7 linked regions of the Homo sapiens genome follow. The protein of the gene in region 1 purifies or fractionates together with the protein of each later gene. This does not show direct contact. Each region holds a gene or a part of one and is shown in the gene's direction. Other genes may lie near its edges.

Region 1 (4,155 bases):
GCGTTCAAGCGATTCTCCTGCCTCAGCCTCCTGAGTAGCTGGGACTACAGACACATGCCACCATGCCCAGCTAATTTTTGTATTTTTAGTAGAGACAGGGTTTCACCATGTTGGCCAGGCTGGTCTCAATCTCTTGACCTTGTGATCCGCCCGCCTCGGCCTCCCAAAGTGCTGGGATTACAGGCGTGAGCCACCGCGCCCGACCGCATCATCTTTTTTATGTGACAAACTCCTAGTCATTCCTCAAACCGCAGCCCCTGTGACCCCCTTCCAAGGGTTATCCCAGCCTCTCCCTCTCTGGCCTAGCCCTGACCCTTCGGGGCTGGGTGTGCCTGTCAAGGTGGGGGCCACGGCTGCCGGGAGCATGGGTGGCAGCCGGAAGGAGACCTGGGGAGGAGCGCAGCCCTGGGAGGGGCGCCCATGGCCAGGGTGGGGGTGGAGGTGGTCAGGCCAGATAAAGGGAGGGGCCAGATGAGTGGACAGGAGGTGCTCCCGTAGGAATGGGGTCCCCTTCTCTAAATAGAGGGGCAGGACGGGGCCCACCTCAACCAGGACCATCCTCAAAAAGCCGACGGGGAAGGGTGAGATGCACACCACATTCGTGTCTCATTGGCTGTGGCCTCAGTTTCTTCATCTGTAAAATGGGGTAATGCCCACCCCAAAGGCTGGGAACCAGTGCATGTCCTGCATTAATGGGGGGTGATGGCCCCAAAGTGATCCTGCCGCATCCCCTCACCACACTCCCACCCACCCTGGAGAAACTGAGGCTTGGAGAGGCCAGTTACCTCCCGGGGTCACAGCATAGCCGGCTGGTGACTGGCTGGGCACAAGGCAGGCCTGGCACTGGCTAATCGCTCCATAAATGCCCTCTGAGGTCACCATTGACAGATGCAGGAGGCCAGGGCTGGCCAGGGCACCCCCACTCTACGGCAGGTGACTCCAGCCTGTTTTCCTGGACGACAGCCGCTGACTCAGGCCCCTCTTCCCGTCCCCCCCACGCGGGCGCCCCCAGGCGGAAGCACCGGGCCTGGGGCGACAGGAAGGGGGCGGGGCAGCGAGTCGCGCTGTACACCCCAAAACCCTGTCCCGCTGACGATTCGGGGTGCATCTCAGCCCGCGGCGAGGCGGGCCGAGACCCTTGGCTCGGGGCATTCAAGGGGAGTCCCCCCATGAACTGCGCCAAGCCTGGGTCCCGGGTGGCCCAGCCGTCAAGGCGCCCCAGGGCCAGGGCCGGCAGGCAGGGGCGGGGGCCAGTCTGCGTCACCGCCCGCCCGGCCCCCCGCCCCCCTGCCCGCCCTAACTCCACCCCGAGGGAAGGCGGCGCGGATAAAGGCTGAGGGCCGCGCGCTTGGCCCAGACCGGCCCGGCCAGCGCGCATTCGGCCCCGGACGAAGGTACTCGCAGCACTTGGAGCGCAGAACCGGCCGCGCCCGGTGAGTGTGGAGGGGGGGGACCTGCGGGCCGAGGAAGGGTGCCCACTCTAGATGGCTCAGGATGCCCGCACTTTTCTTTGTTCTTGGGACAGGAGGGATCGGGGAGCCTCCGGTCCTGGGAAGCCCCCCGGGGTGCGGGGTGGGAGGGGCTCCGCGCAGCCAGCGCCGCCCTGGCCGGACCTCAGCCCCCGCCCCGCCCCCCGGGGCACTCCCCCTTCACCGCGGGTGACCTTGAACTGGTTGCCGTTCCGCCCTCCGTTGCCCAGCCACACGGTCCCAGTCTCCCGACTACAGTCTTTCGTTCCCGATCGGGGTTCCTCCCCCGCGCGCAGCCCAGTCGTCTTCCTCCCCTGCCAGGGGCAGCGCGGCGCCCCCTCCCCGGGACTCCGGGCGGCGCTCCCAGGCGGGCCCGGCAGAGGGCGCGCCCGAGCTGCTGACTCACCGCATCCCCGAGCGCGCGCGGGCGCAGCCGGGGACGCCGCGTCACGTCACGGCTCGAGCGGGCGCGCCTCGGGGAAACGGGTTCTGCCCGCGGCCGGCGGGTGGGCGCGCGGGGCCCCCGGCGGCAGCCACCCGGCCACGTCACCGAGGTGCGGGCGCCCCGCCCCGGCCACAACTCCGCCCCCACGCACCACGCCCTCCCCGGGGCCGCGGCCCTAGCCTCACCGTCGCCCGCCCGCCCCGGGACCCCGGCCACGAGGCGCGGACTTCGCGCTCCCGCTTCCGCTCGCGGCTTTTCCCGGACGAAGGCGGCGGGGTGGCCCCACGACTTCCTGCCCCTCCCGGCGCCGGGAACAATGGCCCGCGCCCCCTCCCGCTCCCGGCCGCTCCCTTGGGATCGCGAGGGGTACCAGACCCGTCTCCAGACCTGGGTCCCGCGCCCCCCGGGGCGCGCCCGCCCTTTGTTGCGGGCTCCGGGCGCTTATGAATGGCTGCGGGCGCGGGCGGGGCGGGGGCGGGCGCGGAGAGGCGCCAGCCCCGCCCCCGCTGCGCTCCCCTTGGTCGCCTGGGCGCTGGGGGCGGGGCGAGGGGGCGGGCCCGGCTGCCACGTGGGGCGGTGCCGCGGCGGCTCTCATAGGCCCGGGCTCGCGGCCGACTGGGCGCTCGGCGCGCGGCGATTGGCCGGCGCCCGGCCGGCGGAGTAAGTAGTGAATGGGAGGGGGCGGCGGCCCCGCCCCCTGGAACGTTGATACATTATAACTTTTTTTTCTTGTTACTTTCACCCCCAGATCCTCCGAGCGGCGGCGACGGCTGTTGCTAAGGGAGGGGACGCGCGAGGAAGCGCGACCCGGGCGGCAGACGGCACCCAGCGCCACCAGCCGAGCGGCGCCCCCTCCCCAGGACCCTTAACCGCGCCGCGTCCCGGTCGCGCCCGCCGCCCTTTGAAGGAGAAGCAAGTGCCGTCCCCACCCCCGGAAGGCGCCCCCAGGAGCCGGAGCGACCTCGGAGCGCCACTCGGATTTTGGATTTCGGTCTCGCATTCCGCGGCCGGGACTTTCTCGAGGAGGACGCGCGCTGCTCCGCGCCCCCGAGTGCCCGGAGGACCCGGCATCCGGGGAGCCTCTCGCCCCTGTCCCGGAGGCGCGGCGAGGATTGGCGGCGCCCGCCGCCCCCAGCCCCCCAGCGCGCGCCGGGGATGGAGCCGCAGCCCGGCGGCGCCCGGAGCTGCCGGCGCGGGGCCCCCGGCGGCGCCTGCGAGCTGGGCCCGGCGGCCGAGGCGGCGCCCATGAGCCTCGCCATCCACAGCACCACGGGCACCCGCTACGACCTGGCCGTGCCGCCCGACGAGACGGTGGAGGGGCTGCGCAAGCGGTTGTCCCAGCGCCTCAAAGTGCCCAAGGAGCGCCTGGCTCTTCTCCACAAAGACACGTAGGTACCGCGCGCCCCCGGCCGGCCGCCCCCTCGGGCCCCGGCCCCCGGGCGGGAACAAAGAGCGCGCCGCGCGGGGAAGGCAGGGGGCGGCCAGACAGGGGGCGGGGGCGCGCCGCGCGCTCTCGGGCGCCCTCTGCTCGGCCTCGCCTGCCTCGGCCCCCTCCCCCGCCCGGGGTCGCCGCACAAAGGCGGCTGCGAGGGCGTCCCGGGCCGGGCTTCGGCGGCCCCCCTTGGGGGCGGGCAGGAATCCCAGGGCGTTGCGGGGGTCCCGGCTGCGGGTGTGGGGGCCGCCACCGCCCCCTCCCGCCTGCGTCCGCGCCGGCTTCCGCATCTGCTCGGCGGCCTCCTCTGCGTCTGGCTGTCTCCCCCCACTTGCGTCTCTCTCCCCCCCTTTGTTCTCGCCTCCGAGCGCTCCCCGCAGCCTCCCCTCCCCCCTGGTATTTAAATCGCCTGCAGGCCCGGAGCCCTCCCCCCGCGGGCCTCCGGGGACACGCAGTGTCCATCCCAGTGGAGGGGCCCATCGGGGGAGGGGCGGAGGGGGAGGGTCTCCTTTGTCTGCGCGGCGGCGGCCGCCTGCGCCGGGGAGGGAGGAGGAGGGGGAGCCCGGCCCGGCGCAACCCCCAGGGCCTCTCCTCGGGCCGAAACCCGTGGTTCCTACAAAGAGGAGCCAGGACTAGAATTAGGGAATTGGGGGCAGGGGCTGCCCTGGGGTCGTGGGGGAAGGTGGCATAGAGCACACTGGGGCCCAGAGGAGGAGAAAGTGCCTGGTTGGGGTGCAGAGGGGGTGCCAGAGTCCAGGGCGGGGGTTCCACTGGAGGGAAGGGGTCCGAATCGCCAGGATGGGGCTCCC
Region 2 (3,500 bases), on another chromosome or scaffold:
ATAAGCAAATCATAGTGTATCCATACCATGGAATATCATTCAGTTCTAAGAAGGAGCGAAGTACTGAGACATGCCACAACATGGACGAACCTAGAAAACATTGCGCTAAGAGGCAGACATGAAAGGTCATGTGTCACATACTGTGTGATTCCATTTATGTAAAATGTCCAAAACAGGTAAATCTGTAGAAACAGAAAGCAGATCGGTTGTTGCCAGAGCCTGAGGGTTGGGTGGGCAATGTGGAATGACTGCTAATGAGACTGGGGTTCTATTTTGGGGGTGATGAAATGTTTTGGAACTAGATAAAAGTGCTGGTTGCACAGCCTTGTGAAATGTACTAAATGCCCCTGAATTGTTCACTTCCAAATGCTTCTTGACTTATGATGGGACTTATGGTGGGGGTACATCCAGGTAAAACCCATCAGACCTATCACAAAGTCAAAATTATAAGTCAGGGACTGTCTGTACAAGAATCGCTCTCTCACACACACACACCTGCCTTCTGCTCCTTGTGTCACCTGGAGTGAATATCTGATTGTTTCTAGAGTCTAGACCAAGGCTTGGCAATTTTTTTTATAAAGGACTCTTCTTTTATCCTGGGGAACTCCTTCCCCAAGCCACTCTTTCCCACCTGAATGACACAGTTGGACCAGGTCGGTGGTTTTCAAGCTTTCATCAAATCCCGGAGCCTTTTACTCAAAAGAAATCTTGTATATTTTAGGTTTTGCAGGCCAACAGGCAAAATCGAGGAGGTTGTGTAGGATATAGCCACTTAAAAATGTAAAAGCCATTCTTGGTTTTGGGGTCTTAGAAAAGCAGCTGGTGGGCCAATTTGGCACAGGGGCACAGTGTGCCACCCCTCAGACCAGCCCTGTCCTCTAGAACTGTAATGGAAGCCACATAGGAAATTTTAAATTTTCCAGCGGCTACGTTAAAAAAGTAAAAAGAGGGGCCGGGTGCAGTGGCTCACGCCTGTAATTTCAGCACTTTGGGAGGCCGAGACGGGCGGATCACGAGGTCAGGAGATCAAGACCATCCTGGCTAACACAGTGAAACCCGTCTCTACTAAAAATACAATAAATTAGTCGGGGCCGGGCACAGTGGCTCACGCCTGCAATCCCAGCACTTTGGGAGGCCGAGGCGGGTGGATCACGAGGTCAGGAGATCGAGACCACGGTGAAACCCTGTCTCTACTAAAAATACAAAAAATTAATCGGGCGTGGTGGTGGGCGCCTGTAGTCCCAGCTACTCAGGAGGCTGAGGCAGGAGAATGGTGTGAACCCGGGAGGCGGAGCTTGCAGTGAGCTGAGATTGCGCCACTGCACTCCAGCCTGGGCAATAGAGTGAGACTCCGTCTCAAAAAAAAAAAAAAAAAAAAAGAGGTGAAATTAATTTTAATTATGTTTTATTTAACCAGATATATCCAAAATACTGTCATTACACCATGCAAAAAAGTTATGACGTGCGCATTTTACGTTACAGCACATTTCAGCTCAGACGAGCCACTTTCCCACTGCTTAGTAGCCTGGTGGTGTGGCCGCTGCCCGCAGTCCTGGTGGCAGCCCTGGGGTGCCACAGGTGGTGGTGAGTTTCCTCCGTCCCTCCCTTGGGCCTTGGGTTGGAAGGTTCCTGGAGTGCTGCTTCTCTGGGACTTGTTACTCCTGTTTGTGTCCCCACTCCTCCTTGGCCCTTGGTGTCTATTGCCAACTTTTGAAGTTTCTTTCTTTGACTATCACATCTTTGATGGCTTCTTTTGGTGTGTTAGAAGTTCTCTTCTGGGCTCTGATCCCCACTCCCTGCCCAGAGGCAGAGTTTAGGGGCAGAAGGGAGGAAGGTCCTTGCCAGGGCCTCAGGCCTGTCCTGTGGGGAGCCGGTGAGGGCCGTGGTGGGCAGGCTGGCGTATCCCCCTCTAAACTGGACGTGCAATGTTCCAGTATTATGTAATTGCACCCTAGCTTTTTTCCCTGGGTTCTAGCCTGTTACCTGATCTTTTCCTCTGATTTCTCTTTCCCTTGCCACACAGAAGGACTATAGTCCAAGGCCTATGTTCTCTTCCTGACACAAATGTGCAGGGTGACCCAGGAAGGTGACTTATGTCTCCCACCTGTAAAGCGGGTGCCTGCCTTCTCTTTGCAGAGTAGTGTGCTGATGGAATGGGGAGTTCCTGAGCCCCCCATGTGGTGAGGGATGTTCCAGGAAGCACGCTGGCTGCCGCCTCTGGGGGAAGTAGCCTTTCTTTGGGCAACCTCATGTTCTTTAGCAGAAATAAAGAAATTTAACTCAGAATGTTTAAATTGTTCCCAAGCTGCCACTTAGTCTTGAAAGAGGGAGAGAGTGTGGCAGCGAGGCACAGGGGAAGACATCCTACTACTGGACATGGAGGATCATTGGGTGCTAATTTGGAAGCATCTGACCTAAGAAAACGGGCTCTTCTCTTATCCTGGGAAACTCATTCCCCAAGCCACTCTTTCTCAGCTGAATGACACCGTTGGACCAGGTGGATGGTTTTCAAGCTTTCATCAAAAGCAGTGCAGCTCTGGGCAAGGCAGCCAAAGCCTGGAGCTTGGCCTCCCATCCTGGGGCGGGGTGGCGGGGGAGGGCCTTGGGTCATCTCTGGGGCCATTTGGGGCAGGTTCGAAAACTCTGCCCTAGATTTTGTGCTTTTTCCAGTTTTAGCAATTGAGGCAGTCTTACAGCTGCTCTGGAATGGAGCCCCCATGCCCTACCCAGAGCTCTCAAGGCATTGTCACTTCCGTTGGGGGCAAGAGCACCTAGGGGGTTGATTCACTGACATTTTGTCTCTGGAAGCTGGAACTGAAATCTTCCAAACCACTCACTGGTTTTCTCAGTCAGGGTCATCCTAGTTCACATGAAACCACAGCCTGGTTTTTGCCTGGAGCCTGTAACCCTTCTGGCTCCTTCCCCTTGGGCGCAGCTTGGCGGTTGCATGCTGTGCCAGAGGTGGCCCTGGTGTCAGAGCTGCTTTGCAGCGAGACTCTGAGTGGATGGGCCTGCCGGATCCTTTGAACCTCTACCTACTATATTGTGTCATAGCCCGTGATTTCACACAGACCTCAGCAGGCAAGGGTGGCCAGCAGGGCTGGTGGCAGCAAGGCCTCCCTCGGAGGAGGGGACCCTGAGTTTTCAGAGTGGTTGAGCGGCCTGCCCAAGGTCACTGAGCTGCTCAGCAATGGGGCCGTGATACAGATTTCAGCTCCATGAGGCTCCCGTGCCAGAGTCCACCCTGGCTCCAGACTCCACCCTGGCTCCAGACTCATCCTCCCTGTCCTTGGGAAGGCCACTTTGCTTTGTAAACTCCTTAGTGTTTTTGTTTGGCCCCGGGGCAGATGGGTAGTAGGGAGATTGGTATATTGCAGTGCTGCAGAATAAATCACAGCTGTTTCCTGGACTTCTAGTTCCTAGCCCTGGGAAGAGGGACCTGCTGGGGCTGTCTGCACCTGCCCTCCCTGCCTTTCCCCCACATTATGCAGGTGAGGGAT
Region 3 (3,500 bases), on another chromosome or scaffold:
TCTCTTTTATCTTCAGCGTGCCTACAAATACAGTGTTATCACCGTCCATGTGTGCCATGATGGAAAAATGGTTGGGCATTTTTCCCGTGGGTGTCCCGGTAAAGTATTTGGACTCAATTCTGGTGTTTGATTAGTGCTTTTTAAAGTAACAGAATCGTCCCTATTTGAGAGGAATACCATAAATCTATTTGTAGTGACCTTTCCTTGAAATCACATTTTTTTTAGTTCGTTCTTTCACTAATGGAAATGGGGGAGAAGCTATGGGGGACAGTAGAAAGAATGGTAAAAGAAGCAGAGATGTGCTTGGTCTGTTTTTAACCGTTTGAGACCATTAATCATTTTCTCTGGGTTTAAGATGGAGGCTTAAAAGTGGCAGAAGTCTTGTAAGGGTTTAGCTGCTATTCAGTGCTGGTAGAATTCTCTTCCCTCCTAAGCCTGTGCACTTTTTAAAATGCACTTTTAAATAGGCTTAATTTGAAGAATGTGTCCATCTCTCTCTCTCTCTCTTTTTTTTTTTTAAAAGATGTACCCTTAAGTAAAAAACAGCTGATTGTCTGGCCCCCATAAGTAACAGTTATTCTGTTTTTTCTTTAAGACATCTTTCTTATTACCTTATCGCATTCATAAGGATTTGGGTTGCCGTATAGAAAAAAAGAAATTAAAGTTCTATGGGTTTCTAAAATATGTATGAGTAAATTTTAGGTGAGAATTTGCATCTTTGATTTAATTATACGTGAAGGTGATGACTTAGTTTCTGAAAGTCAAGAGGGTAGTCTTTACAAGCCAAAAAAGGCATGCTTCCATAAAATTATACTATTCTTAAAGGCCTTCACAGCTAGGGTCCTATATTAGATGCAATAGATGTAACACTGACATACATAGTCTCCTTAAAGTCTGGGATCCAATTTTATTGCTGAATTTACTTTTGAAACTAAATGTCAGGGTTTGGTAATGTTATTTTGGACAATAAGACATAGTTAGATTATAAAATGGCGTATACTCCCAGATTTATTGGGAAGGTGGGCAAAGATCCCCCAGTTTCCAAAAGTTATGATTATGGTCATCTAAGCCACAGGATCTGTTTTCTTATGTAGTTGAGAAGCTAACATAGTACTCCATTAAAAGTGGAGGTTGCCACACTGCGTGACCAAACACTGAGTTCAGCTGCCCTGTCTAGATATTCTGGATTACTACAGCAGCCTTCTAGCCTATGGTTGGAACCCATCTGATACTTTTCCCATTCTTGCTTAGAACAATGGTGATATTTCTCTGCTTAAAATCCTCTTGTGGCTCTTTTTTGCCCATTAATAAAATTCAAACTCCATTTATCCTTAATCTCATATACAAAACCTTCAAGATGTGCTCCTTACCTAACTCTCTTTTTTCCCCTTTATCTTTCATATTTTTCATTTTTTTTCTTACCTAACCCTTTAGCCTTATCTCTCTTCTTGGATGATCTTTTGTTCTACCAATACCCAGCTTCTGGAATGCTAGTGTTTGTTTACTCAGTCCTCCATTTCCTCTTCCTGGAATTCTAGCCTCTCTTCCTTCCCCTAATCTAGTATACTCCTACTGGTCCTTCAGAACTCAGTTTAGGTTATAATTCTCCAAAAAATTACAATTAGGTTCTCTCTCTGGATCCCATCCCTCAAAAAACAAAAAACAAAAAACCTTTAAGACTGGGCTGATTGCTTCTCTTATGTGCTGTCATAATATCTGTTACAGCTCTTAACTACACTGGAGAGAGTACTTTCATTAGCCTATTGTAAATTTTGTTGACAGCAGTCCACAGTAACCTCATAACTACACACACACACACACACACACACACACACACACACATTCTTTCTCTCTCTTAAAGGCCTTCTTCGTAGGCCTTTATCAGTCAAGTGCCCAAACTTTCTCAATTCATGGCACCCTTATTATCGCAGTAATTTTTTTCACAGCATCCCTAGGTCAAAAGAAACACCTAACAGTTTAATTTTTTTGTTTTTTGTTTTTTGAGACGGAGTCTCGCTCTTTCACCCGTGCTGGAGTGCAGTGGCGCGATTTCGGCTCACTGCCGCCTCCACCTCCCAGGTTCAAGCAATTCTCCTGCCTCAGCCTCCCGAGTAGCTGGGATTACAGGCACGCGGCACCATGCCTGGCTAATTTTTTGTATTTTTAGTAGAGACGGGGTTTCACCATGCTGGCCAGGCTGGTCTCGAACTCCTGACCTCGTGAGCCATGTGCCTCAGCCTCCCAAAGTGCTGGGATTACAGGCGTCAGCAACCATGCCTGGCCAGTTTAATTTATTAAGTAATTAGGTCTGAACAACTTAATAAGTATGTATCTCCTAACAAGTCAGTAGCTGTGTGAAAAGATAAAATACATAAACTAAAATCAGTAACTTTCATTCTTAACTGCTATCGTGTATGTACCATAGTTTTCTCGACTAATGTCCTGTTTGAACATTTAAGTAATATCTAATATTTTGCAATTACAAATGATGTTACAGTGAAAAACTTTGTGTACATGTATCTTTGTATTGTTGGAGAGATACATCTTCAGGATAAATGCATATGTAGAGTTGTTAGGTACTGTCAAACTCCTCATCCTGTGGGGTTATACTATTTTGCATTCCTACCAGCAGTGTATGAGAGTAGAGTGCTTATTTCCTCACAGCCTCACCAGCAGTGTTTTGTCAGCTTTTGAATTTGTGCTGATCTAATAGGTAAGAAATTGTATCTCAGTGTATTTTCCATTTGTACTTCTATTACAAGTGAATTGAACATGTTTTCATATGTTTAAGGGTCATTTTAATATTTATTTTTATTGTTCATATTATTTGCTCACTTTCTTTTCTTTTCTTTTTCCTTTTTGAGATGGAGTTTCGCTCTGTCGCCCAGGCTGGAGTGCAGTGGCACGATCTCTGCTCACTGCAACCTCTGCCTCCCAGGTTCAAGCGATTCTCCTGCCTCAGCCTCCTGAGTAGCTGGGATTACAGGTGCACGCCACCACGCCTAGCACGTTTTTGTATGTGTGTATGTATTTATTTATTTATTTTGAGATGGGGTCTCACTCTGCCAGGCTGGAGTACAGTGGCGCCATCTCAGCTCACTGCAACCTCTGCCTCCTAGGTTCAAGCGATTTTCCTGCCTCAGCCTCCCGAGTAGCTGGGACTACAGGCGCGTGCCACCACGCCTGGCTAATTTTTTGTACTTTTAGTAGAGATGGGGTTTCACCGTGTTAGCCAGGATGGTCTCGATCTCCTGACCTCGTGATCCACCTGCCTCGGCCTCCAAAAGTGTTGGGATTACAGGCATGAGCCACCGTGCCTGACCCTAATTTTGTATTTTTAGTAGAGATGGGGTTTCACCATGTTGGTCAGGCTGGTCTCAAACTCCTGACCTCGTGATCCGTCCACCTCAGCCTCCCCAAGTGCTAGGATTACAGGCGTGAGCCACCATGCCGAGCTTTCTTTTACTTTTTTTCTTTTTTTTGAGACAGAGTCTTGCTGG
Region 4 (3,500 bases), on another chromosome or scaffold:
ATATTTAGAATAATTTTTAAATTTATGGACAATTAGTCATCTGCTAAACATTAAATGTATACCTGCTTTTAGGCTGGGCGCAGTGGCTCACGCCTGTAATCCCAGCACTTTGGGAGGCCAAGGCGGGCAGATCACAAGGTCAGGAGATCGAGACCATCCTGGGTAACATGGCGAAACCCCGTCTCTCCTAAAAATACAAAAAAATTAGCCGGGCGTGGTGGCAGGTACCTCTAGTCCCAGCTACTCGGGAGGCTGAAGCAGGAGAATGGCGTGAACCTGGGAGGCCGAGCTTGCAGTGAGCTGAGATCGCGCCATTGCACTCCAGCCTGGGCAACAGAGCGAGACTCCGTCTCAAAAAATGTATACCTGGTTTTCTTTTTGACCTTCAAAGTTTTTTAAAAATTGAACAAATTTAGGCTGGGCACAGTGGCTCACGCCTGTAATCCCAGCACTTTGGGAGGCTGAGGCGGGCGGATCACGAGGTCAGGAGATCGAGACCATCCTGGCCAACATGGTGAAACTCCATCTCTACTAAAAAAACAATACAAAAATTAGCTGGGCGTGGTGGCAGGCACCTGTAATTCCAGCTACTCGGGAGGCTGAGGCAGGAGAATCACTTGAACCTGGGAGGTGGAGGTTGCATTGAGCCTACATTGTGCCACTGTACTCTAACCTGGCGACAGAGTAAGACTCTGTCTCAAAAAAAAAAAAAAAAAATTGAGCAAACTTACATGTTCGCACTATCAGAAAAAAAAAAAATTTCTCCAGGTGTACCAGGAGGACTTTCTAATTTTTCTGTTGTAGATGCTTTTCTTTGGCCATTTGTTCAGTTGCTAAATATTTTTCAGCGTGAGGATCTTCTTAATATTATTCGTGAATTCAACCAATATGCATATGCCAACTAGGCCAGGCACTGTACTAGGTGCCAGGAGTCATCAGCTGTGAATTTGAAACTGACTGCTCTCATGGAGCTTACAGTAACGTAGGAGATGCAAAGACCAAGATGAATAGGCAGTTATAGGGTAGTGTTCAGACTCGCGGTAGGGAGCCAGGCATTGAAGTGGTCAGAATTACATTTCAGAAAGATAACTCTAGCTGTTATGTAGAGACTAGCCTGGGAAGGGACAAAAGTCGAGTCAGAAACAGGAAGTGGTTATAGCAATTCAAGGATGAAATGATGGTCTGCATTAAGGCAGTGTTAGTAAGGATAGAGAGAAGTGGGTGGATAGCTACATCTAAAATACTGTCACTGTTTTCTGGGAATTATCATCTAAAAAGTTCCCTAGTCAACTTCTTGCCAGGCTACGTGATTTCTGTTCTTTCAAACTTTCCGTTTTTGTTTTTGTTTTGTTTTATTTTGTTTTGTTTTGATACAGTCTCTCTCTGTCACCCAGGCTGGAGTGCAGTGGCATGATCTCTGCTCACTGCAGCCTCAACCTCCTGGGCTCAAGCGATCCCCCCTGCCTCAGCCTTCTGAGTAGCTGGGACCACAGGGTGTGCCACCATACTCAGCTGATTTTCTTGTTTTTTTTGTAGACAAGGGGTTTTGCCATGTTGCCCAGGCTGGTCTCGGACTCCTGAGCTCAAGCGTTCCACCCACCTCAGCCTCCCAAAGTGCTGGGATTACAGGCTTGAGCCACCAGCCTCAAACTTTCTTCAGGATTACTTTAACTCATTATAATACTTTCCTAGGAACCTTCTCTTGTGTCTCACCAGCTTTCCACCTTTCTTACTGAGGAATAATCCAGAGCTAATTGCGGTGCTCTGATGAGGGTGAGATCCCATTTTTGCTGAGGCGATGTGGCAGAAACTGTATTTTTAAAAATGAGAATTAGTGGACATGTGGAATTCTAGTACCAAGTAAAGATCCAAACTTGAATGTAGACTTGAGTCTTTTTACACTTGGAAAGATGTCACTTGTAATTTTGGTGGATTAATAGAAGGGGAGACAATGCCAGATCTATAGGCCAGAGACCTAGAATCTGTGGAATTGTGTTCATGACTATGGACATGTAATAGTTGTATTAGTTGCTACAGAAAGTTAATAGTTCTTAAGTATTATTTTATTTTAAATAAATAATTTATATGTAAAAATATTTTGTTAATCTTCTGGTAAAAGTTTTATTTTTATTTATTTATAGATATTTTTGAGACAGAGTCTTGCTCTGTCACCCAGGCTGGAGTGCAGTGATGCGATCTTGGCTCACTGCACCTCCGCCTCCTGGGTTCAAGTGATTCTCCTGCCTCAGCCTCCCGCATAGCTGGGACTACAGGCACGCACCACGAGGCCCGGCTAATTTTTGTATTTTTAGTAGAGACGGGGTTTCACTGTGTTGACCAGGCTGGTCTCAAACTCCTGACATCAAGTGATCCACCCGCCTCAGCCTCCAAAACTGCTGGAATTACAGGTGTGAGCCACCACACCCAGACTATTTTTGTTTTTAGTAGTCACAAGAGTTAGTGTAATTGGTCCATCTTTAGTTTGTGAAACTGAGGAATGTTCAAGTTTATTATTCCATAAGCTCTTTGTTTATTGATGTCTTCTTAAAGTGCCTTGCATCTATGAAAAAGATGTTAGGAATTGACTGCATTTCCAAGACTGACAGTATTGGTGCTAAGGGATCCAATTGATCCCGTGTTCCATATTCTATATTGTTCCTTTTTAATCTCTTTACATATGTTCCAGTATTGTGACATACATTACATCCTTAAAAGCAGGGATATATTCTGTTACTTTTGGAATTCTTTTTGTCTCTCATAGTGCTTCGTACAAAGCAAATTGTACAACACTTTTATTACCTTGGAAGATCCATGAAATTATTAGAAAACGTTCATGGATTTTGATTGTTGTTTCCTTATAGTATATCTTTTCATTTATTCTTGGTAAAGAATGTATAAGACTAAATGTTAGTATCATAGAGTTAATAAAATCTAATAAATAATTAAATTATGTATAATTATATACTAGTAGAAATATATACAGTTATTAACCTAATGAATATATTTAGCATAGTATATAGCAATTTTAAAGAGCCTTTCTAAAAATTTAGTACATACTATTTTTTATTGTAAATGATCTATACATGTAAGTCAGATAAAGAAATGGTCATACAGAATTTTGAACATTGGGGAAAATTTAATAACTTGAAAGTTACATGGATTTTAGAGTATTAGGCTTTTAAAAAATTGTGCACGCGCTGGCAGCAAGTTTTTGTTTTTCCCTAGCACCTCTAATTTTAAAATTCAGGTCTATAAACCTAATTTCTTTTCCTTTTTTAAAGTATTTTTTAGACAGAGAGGATAGTTGGAAAAATGGTACCTATGTTGTTGAGGGGGCATTAATTTATTTACAGTATACTTAATGTCTTGCAGCAGGTAAATTGTAGTAAATTATTATTATTATTATTGTTTTCTGAGATGGAGTCTCGCTCTGTCGCTCAGGCTGGAGTGCAGTGGCGTGATCTCAGCTTGCTGCAACCTCCGCCTCCCTGGTTTAAGCG
Region 5 (3,500 bases), on another chromosome or scaffold:
TTAAAAAGAGCTTGCCTGTTTACTTTGAAATTAGCTTGTTAATTGCAGCTACTCAGCAGGCCAAGGCAGGAGCGTCACTTGAGCCCAGGAGTTCAGGGCTGTAGTGTATAATGATCATGCCTGCGAATACCCACTGAACTCTAGTCTGGGAAACATAGGAAGACGCCGTGTCTGAAAAAAAGAGAGAAAAGAAAAAGAAACTGGCTTGCCCAGTCCAAAACGGGAAAAATGTCTCATTTTTACATTTGGATTACATTGAATTTATAAATTTGGAGAGAATGGAAATTTTAGAATGTGGTGCATCTACTGATTTTCATTCAAACCTTTTGTGTCCTTAAATATGATTTTATTGTTTTCTCTAGGTCTAGAAATTTAATTTCTCTAGATATGCTTTTTAATGTATTCATCAAAGTAATCTTTTTTCTTATTGGTTCTAGTTGTTTTTCTTTCTTTCTTTCGAGACGGAGTCTTGCTCTGTCGCTCAGGCTGGAGTGCAGTGGCACAATCTCAGCTTACTGCAACCTCCGCCTCCCGGGTTCAAGCAATTCTTGTGCCTCAGCCTCCCGAGTAGCTGGTATTACAGGCGCCTGCCACCATACCTGGCTAATTTTTGTAGTTTTAGTAGAGACAGGGTTTTGCCATGTTGGCCAGGTTGGTCTCGAATTCCTGACCTCAAATGATCCACCTGCCTCAGCCTCCCAAAGTACTGGGATTACAGGCGTGAGCCACTGCACCTGGCCTCTAGTTGTGTTTCATTTGATTCTCTTGGATTTCCTATACACACAGTTAGATGATCTGCAAACCAGTAGAGTTTCTTCCTAATTATGCGTATAGTTTTTTTTATGTGATTTAAAATTGTTTAGGATATCCAGGCAACAACAGCAGTATTCACATGTATCCCTGTCTTATTCTGATCTTTAAAGGGAACTTTTTTTTCTTATCTCTTTTTCGTTTTTTAATAAAAAATAAGGCTGAGCACTTTGGCTCATTCCTGTAATCCCAGTGCTTTGCGGGGCTGAGGCAGGAGGATCACTTGAGCCTAGGAGTTCAAGACAGCCTGGGCAACACAGTGAGACCCTGTCTCTACAAAAAAAATTTAAAAATTAGCTGGGCATGGTGCCACACGCCTGTAGTCCCAGCTACTTGGGAGGCTGAGATGGGAGTTTGCTTGAGCCTGGGAGGTCGAAGCTGTGGTGAACCATGATCATGCCACTACAGCCTGGGTGACAGAGCAAGACCCTGTCTCTAAATAAATAAATAAATAGATAAAAATTAAAAATGGAATATTTATAGTGTTTTAACACTAAGTACAATTTGTATTTGCTTTTGGTGTCTGAACTATATTCTAATTTACTTTTACTATTCAGATGTTCACATAGTTTCATCTTTCGTGAATCTTAAGAGATTTTTCGTTTTTTTTTTTGTTCTTGGATGTTCTTCCAGTGAATTCTTTTTTTTAATTTATTTTTTATTAAAATTTTTTTTTTTTGTAGACACAGGTCTCACTCTGTTGCCCATGCTGGTCTCAAACCCTTGGCCTCAAGCAATCCTCCTACCTCAGCCTCCCAAAGTGCTAGGATTACAGGGATGAGCCACTGCTCCTGGCCAAGATTTTCTTATGTAAAAGCAATGGTTAATTCCCAAAGTAGGCCAGGCACAGTGGTTCACACCTATAATCCCAGCACTTTTTTGGGAGGCTGAGGCAGGCAGATCATGAGGTCAGGAGTTCGAGACCAGCCTGACCAATGTGGGGAAACCCCATCTCTACTAAAAATACAAAAATTAGCCGGGTGTGGTTGGCACATTCCTGTAATCCCAGCTACTCGGGAAGCTGGGGCAGGAGAATCACTTGAACTCAGGAGTCGGAGGTTGCAGTGAGCGGAGATTGCACCACTGCACTCCAGCCTGGGTGACAGAACAAGACTCCGTCTCAAAAAAAAAAAAAAAAAAAATTCCCAAAGTAAAAACCTAATGATCATGGTTGATAATATTATTCTAATACATTTTAAAGTTGATAAGCTAGTATTTGGTTTAGGAATTTTATATCTATGTTTATAATTTATATTGCTTTGTAATTCTCTTCTCATGGCTTTTTTTTTTATTTTTTAGTTTTTGGAGACAGTCCCGCTCTGTCGCCCAGGCTGGAGTGCAGTGGCAGGATCTCGGCTCACTGCAGCCTCTGCCTCCTGGGTTCAAGTGATTCTCCTACCTCAGCTTCCTGAGTAGCTGGGACTACTCCCGCCACCACACCAGGCTGATTTTTGTGTTTTTAGTAGAGACGGGGTTTCACCATTTTGGCCAGGCTAGTCTCGAACTCCTGTTTTCAAGTGATTCACCTGCCTCGGCCTCCCAAAGTGCTTGGATTACAGGTGTGAGCCACTGCACCCAGCCTCTTATGTTATCTTAATTTTGTTTTGGTATCAGGGATTTGTTTTCTTGGAAAATATATTGGAAAAAAATGTATTGCTATGTTTTTAATGCCCTGGAATACTTTAAATAACATGAATTGAGAATGCCCTTATAATTTTTATTAGACCTTGTTAATGAAACTATTGGGGTCTTTATCTTTTGGGGATAAAGCATGGATTGCCCATTTAATTCTTTCTATGGTTATTGGTATAGAAAGGTTTTCTACAACTTCTTGAATCAAATTTAGGAATTTGTATTCTCCTCAGAAATCATTCATTTCACCTAGATTTTCAAATTTAATTGGCAAAGAGCAATCATCTCTTATTTTTAAAAATCTCTTTATCACTTGTGATTATATCCACTTCCTCATTCCTAATGTCGTATGTTTATTTTCTCTTTGATCAGACTTCCTAGAGGTTTTACAATTTTATTTGTTCTAAGAACCAGTACTGTTTTTATTTTTCAAATAATGTTTGATAGCTTCCTAATCTCTCAGTTTTTACTTTAACCTCCAAATCTAGTTATTGGTGCTCAGCTTCTCAGTGGTTAGAGGTGGGGGTATGTGTGTGGTTGTTTTACGTTTTGATTGCTAAGTTTTGGCCTTATGGTAGTCATCCAGGAAGAAGGACTTTTTGGAAGTTGGAATTTTCTTTGTGGCCTAATAAATGATTGGTTTTGTCAAAGCTTCATAGACATTTTAAAGAATGTGGGATCTCTGTTTTAAATTAAAATATTAAATTTTATTTATTTTTAAGAATTTAAGTAAGTTTATTTAATGGTGCCGTGCAATTCTGTAGCTTTAGTTTGGGGCTTCTTATTCTGTTGTTTTCTGAAAGAGACAGATTTTCCCATTTTGTTGTCTTCTAATAGAGCTAATCTTGTGTTCCTAACAATTTTTGCTCCATTTATTTATTTTGCTGCTATATTAGATTATTTTAAAGTTTTATGACTTTAAAAATTTATATATATATATATATATATATATATTTTTGAGATGGAGTCTCGCTCTGTCGCCCAGGCTGGAGTGCAGTGGTGTGATCTCGGCTCACTGCAACCTCCGCCTCCCAGGTTCAAGCATTCTCCTGCCTCAG
Region 6 (2,999 bases), on another chromosome or scaffold:
CATAGTCAAATCCTTTGCTCTCAAATAGTTGTACACTTTCCATACATTTCTGTCTTATTTTTTAATTCTAGTGATACACAAATTACATGTGGGCTACTTCATTTGGTAATTTGGTCCAGCTTTTTGGTGGCTGTAGAGTGGCCTCTAGGATACAGAAAATGATTCTCTGAAATTTTTCGTTGTAATTGTTAAATACTACTCTGCTTGACTTACTCAGTTTTGGTGGGAAGATCTGGGTCAATTGGAATAGTACACCTTTCTCAGGGTTTTCAGTTTAATAAGGTTGTCATATTATTCCCAACATGGGAATATAGTGGCTTCTAAAGTTTGCAAATGAATTATGTAAAAGGATTTTCTGTGTATTAGGAAGGCAACCTGTTCTGTTCATGGTATATTAACACTTCATTGTCATGTGTCTACCCTTAAAATTGCTATTTGTAGTGAAGAAAAAAGCATAGTGGTATTTAGTCACTTCTGGGTTCCTCTTGTCAGTTTATATGCAAACATTTTGGCATGTGGGACTTGGGGAGGAGGGACAATTGGTTGTATGTTTTGACCACTTCCACCTATGAAAATTATCTGAACATTATTCAGATTTAAGAGTTCATGGGAGCAGGTGGTACAGAACCTAGTGTTGAATATAATTTTTGTGCCATGCTTGAATGTATTTTGACGGATTAGCAAAATAAAAGTGAACCTCCTATTTTTCATCTTAATGTGAAGATCTTTGGCATTTACATTCTTTTAAAAGTATAAATTCAGTAGTCATTAGTTGAAAGTGGTTTGAAAGGCTGTTAGAGATGATACAGGTTGAGTATTCCTTATCTGAAATTCTTGGGCCCAGAAGTGTTTTGAGTTTTAGATTTTTTTCAATTTTTGAATATTTCCATTATGTTTACCAGCTGAGCAGCTCTCATACAAAAATGTAAAATCCAAACTGCTTCAATGAGCATTTCCTTTGAATGTCATGTCTGCACTCAAAAAATTTCGGATTTTGGAGCATTTTAGATTTTTTGATTGGAATATCTGTAGTGTTTTTCAGGTCATTTAAAAAGCTCTCATTGGTACTGATTTACTGTATCCAAAAAAAAGCCTGCAAGTGGTTAAGGTTCACAGTGATAACTATCAAATCAGAATGACTATACTGATTGTACCCATTCATCCATTTTTAACTTAGTGATTTGGAACGTTTCATATTCAAATCTAATTTTCATAATTTTTAAGTAAACCTAAAAGATTGAGGATACTTGAGAAATTTGCATTTATGATTTCCTTCAAAACCAGAAGTGATGGTATCAGTTATTGGATTTGTAAACTTAGTTTACCTTTTAAGTGTGCTTAAGTTTTGAGAGTTTGCATTTTAGGTTAAATTTTGTCTGCCCGCGTCTGCTGATTGCAGATAGGCATTTGGATGTTGGATTTGGAGCAGAACTGCATCTAGACTACACGGATTTTACCCAAAAAGACAGCACTTGCACTTAGGCTAAGTGTCTTTCTCCATCGTAACCAATTTATTGAATCACTTTAAGAGTGATCATTGGGGAAATTTTCCTCCTCAGCCTTATTTTGGCCTTTTGAAACAGCAACAAAGACTGCCTAGTCAAATAACTCCTTAGCTGTCCTGCTTTTGAGTGAACTTCATATTTGCCTTGAATGAGAATTTAAATGTTACAAGGTAAAACATTTATTATAAAAAGATATTTGAAAGCTGCTATTTAAAAAGGAATTCCAAAGTAGGAAGACTAGAAGGGCAATTCTCTATTTTCCACCTATTTTTTTTACTTTGATTTGAAGCCAGATGATTTGAACCTTCAGAGAGGGAAAGGATTCAGGAAGACACCTTTGGTAGTTATTCTTAACTGTTTCCTTCTCTATTCAGGCAGGCTTTCTTTGTCTCTTTAATTCTTTTACCACTTTGTATGGTTTACTTAAAAAATCTATCTGAAATAGCTATCATTTCCTGCTATAAAGTTCTCAAGTGTAAACTTTTGCCATTTAAACAGTGTGCTTATTTCCCAGTGTTTACCGTCAATTTCATTGGGTGTTAGGCACCTTTGTGTAAGACAGTTCTATAATGTGGAGGTACACAGCAGTGAGACAAACATGGTTGCTGTCTTCATATACCTTGCGTTCTGGTTGGAATTCAATTTATTTTGAAATGGGAATTCAATTTATTTTGAGATGATGCATCTTTTCCTTTACAGCATTGTGTCACAATCTCATATTGTTCACACCATCAAAATTGGAGTTAGCTCCATTGTCATTGAATGTACATTCTCTGATGAAAATTAAGACTCTTTTCTCCTTAATTGATTACTTTTTAGAAATCAAAGGTGTATTTTGTCTTTGATGCTTACGTTGCAAATGTAATTTGCTTCATAGTGGGTATCTGATTTAATATTTCATAGCCCTTAAGGACGTAAATTTGGGCATCCAATAGACCAAATTCTGTTCCTGACACAGTCACTTTCTAGCACTGCGACCTTGGACAAACTGGCCCGAGCCTCACTTGCCTTATTTGTAAAAAAATAGGCTATGGTAATACCTGCTACATAGGATTGTTGGGCAGATTCAGTGAAAGAATGCATATAAAGAAGGGCTTACTGTAGTCTCTGGTACACAGTAATTTTACTATATGGCCCCTAATGAAGAGGTGGGACAGACTAGCAAAAGGCATACTTTTATATCTTAGTACCCGAGATATGCATGGTCTTTAGGCTTTGCTCTTTACTTGCTGGGTGAGCTTCCATGTGGTAGTTCTCTAAATCACTGCTGCTTCAACTCTAGTAGGAGAGAGATGAATTCTGCTAGCCATCTGTAATGTTTTAAGTATTTGTTAATATTAGGAAGGTATAAATAATGTGAGTGTTGAGGAGAGGTGACTTCAGGTAGGAAGAAGGATCAAGAGAGGCATTGTGGAGCATATAACATTTAACCTTAAAAGATAGGTCTTATAGAGAAGGTGGGAGGAGAAAGAGGGCATTTTAGGTGGAGGACAG
Region 7 (3,067 bases), on another chromosome or scaffold:
TAATATTCCCTATGTACTTCAAACATGTAGTGAGAAAAGAATGTTGAAAATTAGCTTAGTGCCACAGAGTGGTAGAGGCCTTTGAGAGAGGGGAGAGTAGATAGTGCTGATAGATAGGAAATGGATAGGAAGCTCTGCTGTTACCATCCTTATAGGTCTCTTCTTTTTTGCTTTTCATTTTCTTCTCTTGAATATCAGTACACTAGCAGCAGTCTCTCATTTGGTACCACCTTTCCAAGTATCTGTGTTTCTAAAAGTTCTGCGTTCTATAACAAAAATAGGAGAGTCAGACTTCAGCAAAACTCCAGCTCCCTTCAATCCACTCACAGTTTAACTACTTCTACCGGGCATTAGTGGCATTTTCTTCTAAAAATCAGACATCTGTTTTGCTTAACAAAGTAGACTTTTTAACTATACATTGATACTTTGTACTAATTAGTTGATTTTAATTTAATAATTTAATAATTAATGACAGCAACTTCAAGTAGTGCTGCCAGTCTGAGCAGTACACAATGCCTGTGTACCTATTTACTTAAAACTGGCAAATTTAATATCTCTGTTCTGTCTGAAAACTATTTTACAAAAACAATTATGTTTTTATTTGGTTACTCCATTCCAGTAACTGCAATTACTTTACCTTTAGAAGTTATATAGCATGAAATAATAGTGATTGGTAGCATGATTCAATTGAATTTATTTCCTACAGGAAATTTTGTTAGAAGTTATGTTAATATGCTAATGACTTAAGAGTTTCTCCCTATCTTTTTGAAAATCGACAAGAACTGTTTTAGTCCTCATATGATACTGGTTGTTGAGACTTTTTGAGGAATGTTTTGAGTAGTTTTCTTGGTTGTGTGGATTGTTTGGAATTATGTGGTAGCTTAGAAGCATGGTAAAGATGCTTTTAATTTGCGTATTTTTATATAGTAATGTCTAACATGGAATTATCTTTACAGGAAAAAACAAAAAAGAAAAAGAAGCATAAGAAACACAGTAAGAAGAAGAAAAAGAAGGCTGCTAGTTCAAGTCCTGACTCACCATAACATTAAGAAAAATCAGGATTCCCTTATAAAGAAAGTGCAATGTCTGAGGAAATTTCAACTGTGAAAACTACAACATATTTACTAAAATGCATGAATTTTCTTGTTTTTGGAATTATTCCTGGACTATTCAGTAGCCACTCAGATGCCACTGTGTGAAAGGGCCATAAATGTTGCCTGCTGCTTGAACATCTATTTTTTTCTCTTCCAGTGCTTGATAACTCTGGGAGATAATACACTGCAGTCGTACTAGTGGTTAAGATATTTGGGAATAAAATTAATACTTTTGACTAGAAGCGTCTAAGGATAAACCAACAGAAATTGAATCTGGATACATCTTTAAGATGTAATCAGAAATGACCAGATGACTCTAGTTAGAATTTTTGAAGGAGGGATTACATTAATATTTCAAAACCCTTACTCTGTAGATAAGTGTATTTTAATTTTTTCCCCTCGTATACTTTTATTTACCTGGGGAAGGAGCTTTTAGGGTTGGGGGGTGGTTTGCTATCTCTTTAGCTAGCAGAATAGTGTGCCTTTGATCCTCACACATCCTGTATTATGGACACAGTAGCCATGCTTCACGGGGAGGTCAGAGCTGGCTACCAGCAGTCTTGCCCTTTACTGAGCTTAGTGTCATCTTTGGATGCTGTCATATGCTGCTTTGAGTGAACCAGAGAAACAGCCATTTGCAGCATGAGAAAGCCCCAAAAGCTCTGGGATTTACCTCCACTTTAGTAATAATGAATATTTTTTAGCATTAGAATGTGTTATGTCATTTGAATTAATTTTGACTACACTTTGGCTTGGGAGAGGAATTATTTTAAATAGACATTGGTACTTTTTGAACTTGATAGCTAAAGATTCTAAAATGCATGTTTTATACTAAGTTTTAACCAGTCAGGAAAATTTTATGTAACTAGTGATAGTTTATTTTTTTGTATGAATTTTGTTTAGGCTGCAATGTTTAGCTTTTGTTAACTCCTCACTCTTGCTGTCTTAAGTTCATTACTATGTTTAATGGCCTACTTGCCAAGATATTTAGCATGTAAAAAGCAGGGTTTTGATTAAAAAAAAAAAACGGCTTCATATTGAAGCTGAGACTTACAATAACAAGTTGAGTGGCAAGCCTGGTATGCTGTGTCTTATTGCCAGAATCTTAGTAAATGTAATGTTTTAAAAGTTTGTTGTCTTTGTATATTAATAACAAATTATGACAAGTTAAGTTTAAATAAGAGTTACATTATTGCTCTCCCTGTGTCATATTTTACTAAGATTTTGTGCCTCATGTCTACTGCTGAATTGTTTACTAGGAATGTTAAAAGGAATTGATAATTCATTTTCATTTTACATTTTTATATAATCAGGTAACATGACATACAACTTGATGTACAATTTTGCCTGTTACAAAGGGTGTGCTAATTATAGTGGTATATGCACAGAACATGTTGGCATGACAACAGGCTGAATAAATAGCTATTTTACTTAAAAATAGCTGTGTTCTTATCAGCTCCCTTTGGACTGCAAGTAAACTTACAAAGATAAACACTCCTAGATGTTAAGCTGGAAATAGATAAGACATGTCCCTAAATTTTTAGCTATTAAAAAAACACATATCTTGGTTTCTTATACTCAAAGCTGCATGCTATTTCCTAATAAAAGATATCTGTATGCTTTTGAATACACAGAAAATTCAAGGGACATTTTGCATCCAAAAGGAAGTTTCCTAGAATTGTTGTTCATGAAAATGCCAGAAGATAAGTTGATCAGATTACATGGTCATCACTTTTGTTACGACATGGAAGTGCAGGTTTACAGACTAGTCCAATAGGTATATAAAGATTGTATTCCACTAGAAGCAACTGTTCATTTTATTAGACGGGGAAGAAGGTGATTTGGTGAAAAACTATATTCTTTCCAGAATGTGTTAACTGTCTGGGCAACACTTTTTTCTAGTCCTCTGTTGGTAGCCTTAACAGCCTCCTAACAAAGTATGGAAAGAAAAGAAAATTTGACAGAATAATTTT

Evidence for each region.
Region 2: the proteins of MIDN (region 1) and MPRIP purify together in Homo sapiens (affinity purification with mass spectrometry, with the first as the bait; one large-scale study listed by BioGRID). This does not show direct contact.
Region 3: the proteins of MIDN (region 1) and RALA purify together in Homo sapiens (affinity purification with mass spectrometry, with the first as the bait; one large-scale study listed by BioGRID). This does not show direct contact.
Region 4: the proteins of MIDN (region 1) and PCMT1 purify together in Homo sapiens (affinity purification with mass spectrometry, with the first as the bait; one large-scale study listed by BioGRID). This does not show direct contact.
Region 5: the proteins of MIDN (region 1) and HIGD1A purify together in Homo sapiens (affinity purification with mass spectrometry, with the first as the bait; one large-scale study listed by BioGRID). This does not show direct contact.
Region 6: the proteins of MIDN (region 1) and HNRNPA0 purify together in Homo sapiens (affinity purification with mass spectrometry, with the first as the bait; one large-scale study listed by BioGRID). This does not show direct contact.
Region 7: the proteins of MIDN (region 1) and FAM133B purify together in Homo sapiens (affinity purification with mass spectrometry, with the first as the bait; one large-scale study listed by BioGRID). This does not show direct contact.

What each region holds. Positions count from the first base shown.
Region 1 is NC_000019.10:1,247,228-1,251,382, forward strand, and holds the start of MIDN (midnolin), read left to right. Parts: upstream 1-1,355; 5' UTR 1,356-1,433; intron 1,434-2,660; exon of another isoform or gene 2,661-2,662; 5' UTR 2,663-3,069; coding exon 3,070-3,302; intron 3,303-4,155. UniProt on the Homo sapiens protein: Facilitates the ubiquitin-independent proteasomal degradation of stimulus-induced transcription factors such as FOSB, EGR1, NR4A1, and IRF4 to the proteasome for degradation. Promotes also the degradation of other substrates such as CBX4.
Region 2 is NC_000017.11:17,048,957-17,052,456, forward strand, and holds part of MPRIP (myosin phosphatase Rho-interacting protein), read left to right. Parts: intron 1-3,500. UniProt on the Homo sapiens protein: Targets myosin phosphatase to the actin cytoskeleton. Required for the regulation of the actin cytoskeleton by RhoA and ROCK1.
Region 3 is NC_000007.14:39,626,572-39,630,071, forward strand, and holds part of RALA (ras-related protein Ral-A precursor), read left to right. Parts: intron 1-3,500. UniProt on the Homo sapiens protein: Multifunctional GTPase involved in a variety of cellular processes including gene expression, cell migration, cell proliferation, oncogenic transformation and membrane trafficking.
Region 4 is NC_000006.12:149,805,241-149,808,740, forward strand, and holds part of PCMT1 (protein-L-isoaspartate(D-aspartate) O-methyltransferase), read left to right. Parts: intron 1-62; exon of another isoform or gene 63-99; intron 100-3,500. UniProt on the Homo sapiens protein: Initiates the repair of damaged proteins by catalyzing methyl esterification of L-isoaspartyl and D-aspartyl residues produced by spontaneous isomerization and racemization of L-aspartyl and L-asparaginyl residues in aging peptides and proteins.
Region 5 is NC_000003.12:42,787,491-42,790,990, reverse strand, and holds part of HIGD1A (HIG1 domain family member 1A, mitochondrial), read left to right. Parts: intron 1-3,500. UniProt on the Homo sapiens protein: Proposed subunit of cytochrome c oxidase (COX, complex IV), which is the terminal component of the mitochondrial respiratory chain that catalyzes the reduction of oxygen to water. May play a role in the assembly of respiratory supercomplexes.
Region 6 is NC_000005.10:137,748,150-137,751,148, reverse strand, and holds part of HNRNPA0 (heterogeneous nuclear ribonucleoprotein A0), read left to right. Parts: 3' UTR 1-2,999. UniProt on the Homo sapiens protein: mRNA-binding component of ribonucleosomes. Specifically binds AU-rich element (ARE)-containing mRNAs. Involved in post-transcriptional regulation of cytokines mRNAs.
Region 7 is NC_000007.14:92,560,258-92,563,324, reverse strand, and holds the end of FAM133B (protein FAM133B), read left to right. Parts: intron 1-956; coding exon 957-1,043; 3' UTR 1,044-2,567; downstream 2,568-3,067.